2 linked regions of the Homo sapiens genome follow. The protein of the gene in region 1 interacts with the protein of each later gene in a pairwise test. Each region holds a gene or a part of one and is shown in the gene's direction. Other genes may lie near its edges.

What was found.
Region 2: the proteins of GREB1 (region 1) and HMMR interact in a two-hybrid assay, tested with the Homo sapiens proteins (one large-scale study listed by BioGRID and IntAct).

What each region holds. Positions count from the first base shown.
Region 1 is NC_000002.12:11,532,515-11,537,123, forward strand, and holds the start of GREB1 (protein GREB1), read left to right. Parts: upstream 1-1,530; 5' UTR 1,531-1,740; intron 1,741-4,609. UniProt on the Homo sapiens protein: May play a role in estrogen-stimulated cell proliferation. Acts as a regulator of hormone-dependent cancer growth in breast and prostate cancers.
Region 2 is NC_000005.10:163,484,360-163,488,178, forward strand, and holds part of HMMR (hyaluronan mediated motility receptor), read left to right. Parts: intron 1-3,819. UniProt on the Homo sapiens protein: Receptor for hyaluronic acid (HA). Involved in cell motility. When hyaluronan binds to HMMR, the phosphorylation of a number of proteins, including PTK2/FAK1 occurs.

The sequences.
Region 1 (4,609 bases):
AAAAAAAGTGTGGCAACTGGGTCATTCTGACCTAGAAGCAACCAAAATACTTCTGATTGCCGCAGCAGACAATGATGAATCATACCTAAACAAGTTTGCTGCCTTTTCATTTCTGTGGGTCGTAATCAGACTCATTGTTTTGTAGCCAGTGAGACATTTGCAGCAGCATGTTTGGGTCTGTGGGAGGAGGGAGGCTTGCAGATCTTCCCAGCGATGTGTGTGCTTGTCCCCACTAGCGCAGTGGAAACAGTGTTCTTGTTATCCAGGTTTAAGCCCTGTTAGGGATATGGCTTGTCCATTGTCATCGTGATGATACTGCTTAAAGATATCCTTTGTTGAGCACCTGCCATATGGCAGACGGTGTAAAAGGTGCTTTACGGTCCTGGTGTCATGGAAAGCCTTCCAACAACCTTATGATAGAGGTATTATTATCTTCATTTTGCCAAGAAAACTGAGGCTCTGGGAAGTTAAGTCAGTCACATAGCCAGTAGATACCAGGCACCCATAAATGTTTGTTGAGTGAATGAATAAATGAAGGAATGAATGGCAACTCCAAACTAATGGGAGAGAAATGCAAGAAGAGAGAGACTGATCAACATGAGACAAAAAACTTGGTGCTACAAGTTAAGAGGTTTTGCACATCCCAATTATTCATTTTTGCAATTTTTAAGCTCCACTTTCAAATAGAGACGGGGATTGGGATGGGATTTCAATGCAGGCGAATAACACAAGACAGATGGAGGAATATGTTTATGATCAGCAAAGAGATCACTCATCTTGAAAAAAACAGATAAATGGGAAAACACTGAAGTGCCAGCCACAGTACTAAATACTCTACTACATTATCTCATTTAATCCTCACAAAGTCAGCTTTGAAGTCAGCACTGTTATCTCTGTTTATGGCTGAGGAAACTGGAGCTCAGGGAGTGAGGGAGGCTGTCCAAGGTCACACAGCTCCGGTGGGTGAGGGGGCAGGGACTGGACCCAGGCACACCCAGCTCCACAGCGTCCCTGAGACTCTGTAAACAGAAGCCGGGAACAACAATTTCATTATTTATGCTTGAATTTAATTTTGTGTTTGATGGAGGAAAAAATGGATGATACACAGATTGCTACCAACAAAACCCAACAATTGGTTCTTTGAGATTCTAGCTTAGTGCAGGGAGAAAGGCAAGCCGGTGATGAACGTTTTGGGGTAGCCAGAAACAATGAACTAGGGGTGACTGGTGTGAAATTCAGTTGTGTGGACCATATTTTCTAAACTAGAATCTGCACACCATGCTCTCCCGCCATGTTCTCCCCTAGGAGAAAATTGTAGCTTGCAGGCAGAAATGTAAACACATAATCAATTCTACTATAACTTGATATATGTGTTCCTAAAAATTATTGCACCATGCAAGATTGGGCAATAAAAACCGCAGGGTTTATGACGAATACAGGCTTAGGGCAACAGCTCTCAAAAACTTCATCAATGACACATTTTTTAAAAAGATAAAAACCTAATAAAAAGGGCAGCACCGTTTTACACATGCTAAATGGTTAAGAGATACATAAATACTGCAGTAGAGATGGGATTTTACCTCAAAGTGCAAAGGTAAATGAAATAAAGTTTTTTCAATGGAAGGCTTGCAGCTCTTGAGGACCTGCCAAATGGAAGAAGGACAGAGACCTGGAGCCCTATGGAAAGTTCTGACACCATGTGTGGAAGGACATGGCTTTTAACACGTGTGGTGACTGGAGGTAGGTGGTAGGTGCTTGAGGCTGGTGTGTGTGCGCCTTTTGTATATTCTCAAGCAGCTGGGGTCAGTTGGGCACCATTTTTCTGAACTTACTTTTGTGTTTCTTGCAGAGGAAATCACCAGGCACACACAAAACCCACAAGGTATTCAAATTGTTCTGTAATATGTCAATCTGTCCGTACAAATTTGCAGTTTCAAAACAAGCGTTATAGCTGAACTGACTGTATGTGGGAACATCACTGCAACTCTTGCTGACCCTGTGTGCTGAAGTGGGGAGCGTGCGGCTTTCATACCCCCAGCCTTTCTGCACAGCTCTTCAGTTTACCTGGGGGCCCCTCAGCAGTAAAGCCAGATCAACAGGCTCACCCGTGAGAGCTCCTCTTGTGTGATTGTTGAGTGGCTCAGTGATTGGGTTGGTTGGGAAACAGAGTGTGGCCCTCAGTCTTCCTGAGGATGGTAATTAGAGGGGGATGTGTGCTTCTTCTTCACATATACCTGGTTGTTCTCTGATTGCTTTGGTGTCTTTTCTTCTGTTTCTTCTCCTGGATGTTGTTTTCATGTTTCCTTCCTTAAGTGCTACATGACCCTTGGATTTTCATGTGTGTTTAAGAGTGAGGCAGAGAAGGTTGACTGGGAGTGTTGTGTCCACAGGGGGCGCTGGTGTCTGGCAGGTGTCACTTTTGGGGTGCTCAGGACAGAATCAGCTGGCATTCTGGAGGCCTCTGAATGCCAGACTGTGCGTTAGCGGCTCTAGTTCTTGTTGGTTGATTCAATTTGTATCAGAAGAGCTTTCGGTATTTTTTGCCTGGGGTGAACGCCTGGCTCCTGGGAGATCTGCATGTGGCCCTGGGGTGGGAGGTAGAGGAGCTACCTGCTCTGTAGACAGGATTTCACAGAAGACCCCTGGTCCCAGCGCTGCTGTGCACTCCTCCCAACACTTGTCTGGCGTATCTGAGTCTCTGCATTTCCTCAGGGCCAGTTGGTCCCCCCAGGTATGCACCCTTCTCCTGTGTCAGCTCCACATTCCCTCTCTAGTCTGGCTTCTGGAAGTTTATGAAACCTGAACCTCTAGTTAGCTAATGGCATCCCTTCCATCTTTTCATCACTGTGGCTTAAAATACCTCACCCCACTTATTTATTTATTTATTTATTTATTTTTAATTCAGTATCTTTTGAAGGTCATCTCAGGAAGGGCCAGGTACCATGTTGAATTAGAAGTTAATTCTCATACCATAATCTAAATGTCTGTTTCCATTAAACAGCATTTTTACAAGGAAAGGACTTTACTCTTCGAGTTTCCAGTGCCTGGCACACAGGATGACACTTAAAAAATAATAATAAATAAATAATAGAGAAATAAGGTGTGTGTTGATTGAAATACATTGATTGAGTTCTTTGGTTACTTCTAGGTCTGAGAGTCTAGGATTCGGTGATTCAAGGGGAGAGGCTGAGGAAAGTCTTTAACTAGATGGGAAGGCTTGGGTCCTTGGGTTTTCACGAGTATAGAAAAAGGTTGCATTAGCCCCACTTACATGATTTGTTTTATCTTCCCCACTTCCTGACCGTGCCCACTAAATCTCTGAAATCTCTGGGCTGTCTACATTTTGCCTGGATATGGATGTCGGAATTGTTCATCTTCTTTCTTCTTGCTGCCCTGAACTCTTTTTTTTTTCCCTGTAAAATGCAAACACTACCTTGTAAATAAACTCTTATCAGATACCTTCTATTTCCTAGGCACTGTGATTGGCCAAGGGCGTACATCTGCATGTTCTCTGCTCTCCTGGGGATCCCAGGCAGCAGGGGAGAGAGGGAAGCACACAGATTAACCATGGTCCTGGGAGACCACCGCAAGCCTGGAGCATACACAGGAGTGGTGGGGACACAAAGAGAATGCCCAGCTCAGTTTCGGGAGGTCAGAACCACCACACAATTGAAGAGATGCTTGAACTGGGTCTTGAGGGATGAGGCAGCGGGAACACAGCATGTGCAGAGTCGGAGGTGTGACAGGATACGGAGGCACTGCTTGTGCCCCAGGCAGTCAGCAACCAGGCAGTGCCAGCAGCACCAACCCCGCATGATTTGTCCCAGTAAAGCTTTGTCTTCTCTAGTGATCTGGAAACCTCTCAGGGAAACATTTTGTAAAAGCCAAGCCATATTTATTTATTAATGGTGGTTATATAGTTTCTAGAGCATTTTGTTGGATAGGTAGAGACTTTTCTGCTTTTTGAAAGTTATCACTCCTAGCCATTGTGGCCAAAAAGAGAAAAATGCCAAAAAGTGCCAAACTGTGGCTATGATTGTCATGTTTAATGTGGAGAGGATTTGGCCAGGGGTAGAAGAGCATTATGTATAGAATAGAACAAAGAGATTTATGGCAAGAAGAGATACTGGCATTAAGCAAAGAATTGCAGATTTAAACTGAGAAGAGAGCCGCACAGCAGATGGAGTTAACACTGGAGGTGAGCTCTCTCCTCTTTAGGTACCTCATTGCTATTTTCACATCAAAAGCCTATTTTTGACAGTAATTAGAAAGCATAGTGGGTTCAAAGTCATTGCAATTCACACCTAATGAAGGCAAACTTTGCTAATTTTCTCCTCATAATAGTAAGTTACATCAATTTTAAAAGTTAGCAATTTACAGCACAGTTGAAAGAAGCATGTTTTAAAAAACCTTGAATTCTTAGAGGCAAGTACCATAGATATTTTCTTTTTTTTTATTTTTCTTTGAGATGGAGTTTCACTCTTGTCGCCCAGGCTGGAGTGCAGTGTTGGAATTGTGGCTCATTGCAACCTCCTCCTCCTGGGTTCAAGAGATTCTCCTGCCTCATCCTCCCAAGTAACTGAGATTACAGGCACCCGCCACCGCGCCT
Region 2 (3,819 bases), on another chromosome or scaffold:
GGAAAATTGAGCTGTGATTTAGTGGATTTATTTTAGAGTGTTGACCAGATGGGCATTCAATGTTCTAAAGTTTTCTAGCTACCTTCTTAATATATTGAAAATTACTTGAGTAATTGGATGAATTCATTAAGCTTTACATATCTATTTCCATTTGCAAAACTGCAAACTCCTTGATGTAAAACCATAAAGAGAAGCAGTGTTCAAAAATATTTGGGCATTTAAATTTTTTAACATATGTATTGAGATATAATTGACAACCCATACAATCCACCCATTGAAAGTGGACAATTCAGTGTTTTTTAGTATACTCACAGATTTGTGCAACCATCACCATAGTCAATTTTAGGACATTTTCATCACCTCAAAATGAAACCTTGTTATCCTTTTCCTAACACTCTCCTATCTCCTCACCCCACCCCACCCTTCAGCCCTAAGAAACCACTAATCTACTTTCTGTCTCTGTTGATTTCCCTATTGTGGACCTGGCATATTCATGGATTCAAATAATATGTGGCCTTTTGTTACTGGCTTCTTTCAGTCAATTAGCATAATATTTTCAAGATTCACCTGTGTTGTAGCATGGAGAGTACTTTATTTTTTTTATAGCCTAATAATTCATTATGTGGGTATACCACATTTTATTTATTCGTTTGTCAGTTGATAAACACTTGTTTGCACATTTTTGGCTATTATGAATAATGCTACCATAAACATTCATGTACAAGTTTTTGTATGGACATTTGTTTTTTCCTGGGACATATTATTTCCCTGGGAAATAATAGGAGGGAAATTGCCAGATCATTTGATAACTCTACATTTAATCATTTCAGGAAGTATCAGACTACATTCAGATGAGATCGGGTGCGTTCAGGGTGGTATGGCCATAGAAAGGTCAGGCTGTATTCAAAAGTGGCTCATACCAATCTATATTCTACAGGCGGTGTACGAGGGTTCCAATTTCTCCACATTCTTACCAACATTTGTTATTATCTGACTTCTTTATCCTAGCCATTGTAGTGGGTATGAAGTGGTATCTCATTAACTTAACTTGCATTTTCTTAATTGGTAATGATGTTGGTCATCTTTTCATGTGCTTACTGGCCATTTGTATATCTTCATGAAAGAAATGTCTGTTTATACTCTGCTCATTTTTAAATTGGATTATTAGTCTTTTTATTATTGTGAGAATTCTTCATCAATTCTGGACACAAGTCTCTTATGTATTATTTGCGAATATCTTCTCCCATTCTGTGCATTGTCTTTTCACTTTCTTGATGATGTCCTTTGACCCAAAAAACTTTTATGACGTCCAGTGTGTCTATTTTTTTGTTTGTTCGTTCCTTGGTATCTATCTCCTCTGCCAAATTCAAGGTCAGGAAGATTTACCCCTGTGTTTTCTTCTAAGAGATTTATAGTTTTAGCTCTTACATTTAGATTATTGATTGATTTTGAGTTAATTTTTGTATGTGGTGTGAGGTAAGGGTCCAGCTTCATTCTTTAGCATGTGGACATGCAATAGTCCCCACACTATTTTTTAAAGAGAATATTCTTGCCTCCAGTTAATGGAGTTAGCATCCAATTAAAAAATCATTTAGACTGTACATGTATGGATTTATTTCTAGACTCTCAACTGTCTTCCATTGATCTATACATCTATCCTTGTGCCACCACACTGTCTTGATTACTGTTGTTTTGTAGTAAGTTTTGAAATCAGGAAGCGTGAGTCCTCTTTGTATTTTTCAATATGGTTTTGTCTATTCTGGACCTCTTGCAATTCTATATTAATTTTGGAATCAGTTTTTCTACAAAGAAACCAGCTGGGATTCTGATGGGAATTGCATTGAATCTGTAGATCAGTTTGGGACATATTATTATCTTCACTAGGTTAAGTCTTCTAATACATGAATATGGGATATTTTTCCAATTATTTAGATCTCATTTAATTTCTTTCAACAATGTTTTATAGTTTTCAGAGTATAAGTTTTCCACTTCTCTTGTTAAATTTATTACTATTTTATTCTTTTTGATGTTTTGTAAATGAAATTGTTAATTTCATTTTTGGATTGTTGATTGCCAGTGTATAGAAATACAATTGATTTTAATATATTTATCTTGTATCCTGCACCCTTGCTAAACTCATTTTAGTTCTAATAGTTTTTTAGTGGATTCCTTAGGATGTTCTTATAGATCATGTCTTTTGCAAATAGAGATAGTGTTACTTATTTTCCAATCTGGATGCCTTTTATTTCTTTTTCTTGTCTAATATCTCTGGCTAAAACCTGTAGTATAATACAGTGTTGAATTTAGAAGTAATGAAAATGGATGGACAGCCTTGCTTTGTTCCTGATCTAGGGGGAAAGCATTCAGTCTTTCTCCATGATATATGATGTTACCTGTATGATGTATATAGCGTGACATTATTAGATGTTGATTTGTTGGCCAGCCGAGGTGGCTTACGCCTATAATCCCAGCACTCTGGGAGGCCAAGGCAGGTGGATCACCTGAGGTCAGGAGTTTGAGACCAGCCTGGCCAACATGGTGAAACCTCGTCTCTACTAAAAATACAAAAGTTAGCTAGGTGTGGCGGCGGGCGCCTGTAATCCCAGCTACTTGGGTAGGAGAATGGCTTGAACCCAGAAGACAGAGGTTGCAGTGAACCGAGATGGAGCCATTGAGCCTGGGAGACAACAGCGAAACAATCTAAAAAAAACAAAGATGTCGATTTGTCATAGATGCTCTTTATCAAGTTGAGGAAGTTCCCTTCTGTTTCCTAGTTTGTTGAGCATTTTTATATGAAAGGGTAATGAATTCTATCAAGTGCTTCTTCTATTTCTATTGAGATTATCATGTAATTTTTTTATTCTGTTGATATGATGTATTTTATTAATTGATTTTTAGATATTAATCTAACCTTCTGAGATAAATCTCACTTGGTTATGGCATATAATTATTTTTATATGTTGCTGAGGGGTTTTTTTCAGCCATATTCCTAAGATATACTGGTCTGTAGGTTTTCTTTGCTTTGTTTTTGTTTTTTTAATGTCTGTCTCATTTTGGTATCAGGGTAATGGTGACATCACAAAATGAGTGAGAAATGTTCCCTCTTTTCTATGTGGAATGGTTTTTGAATAATTGGTATTAATTCTTCATTGAATGTGTGGTAGAATTTATTGGTGAAGCCATCTGGACCTTGGTTTTTCTTGTGAATATTTTTTGGTTACTAATTCAATATCTTTACTTGATATAGGCTTATTCAGATTATCTCTTTCTTCTTGATTCGGTTTTCTTCTTGAGTAGTTTATGTCTTTCTATAAATGTGCCTAATTTGTTGGTATATAATTGTTCATAGTATTCCTTTATAATCTTTTTTTTATTTCTGTAAGGTCAGTAGTAATGGCTTCTCTTTATTTCTGATTCTAGTAATTTGAGTCTTTTTTTTTTAAGTTTCTTTCTTTTTTTAAATTTTTAGTGGAGAAAGAACTTTATTTTTTTGTTTGGTTTTTGGGTTTTTTTAGAGACAGGATCTCACTCTGTCACCAGGCTAGAGTGCAGTGATGCAATCACGGCTCACTGCAGCCTCAACCTCCCTGGGCTCAGGTGATCCTCCCACCTCAGCCTCCCAAGTAGCTGGGACTACAGGCGTGCGCCACCACATCCGGCTAATTTTTCTACTTTTTGTAGAGACAGAGTTTTGCCATGTTGCCCAGGCTGGTCTGGAGCTCCTGGGCTCAAGGAATCTACCAGCTTTGGCCTCAAAATGCTGGGATTATAGGCTTGAGCCACTGCACCTGGCCAAGAACTTTTCTTTTTTATAATTTC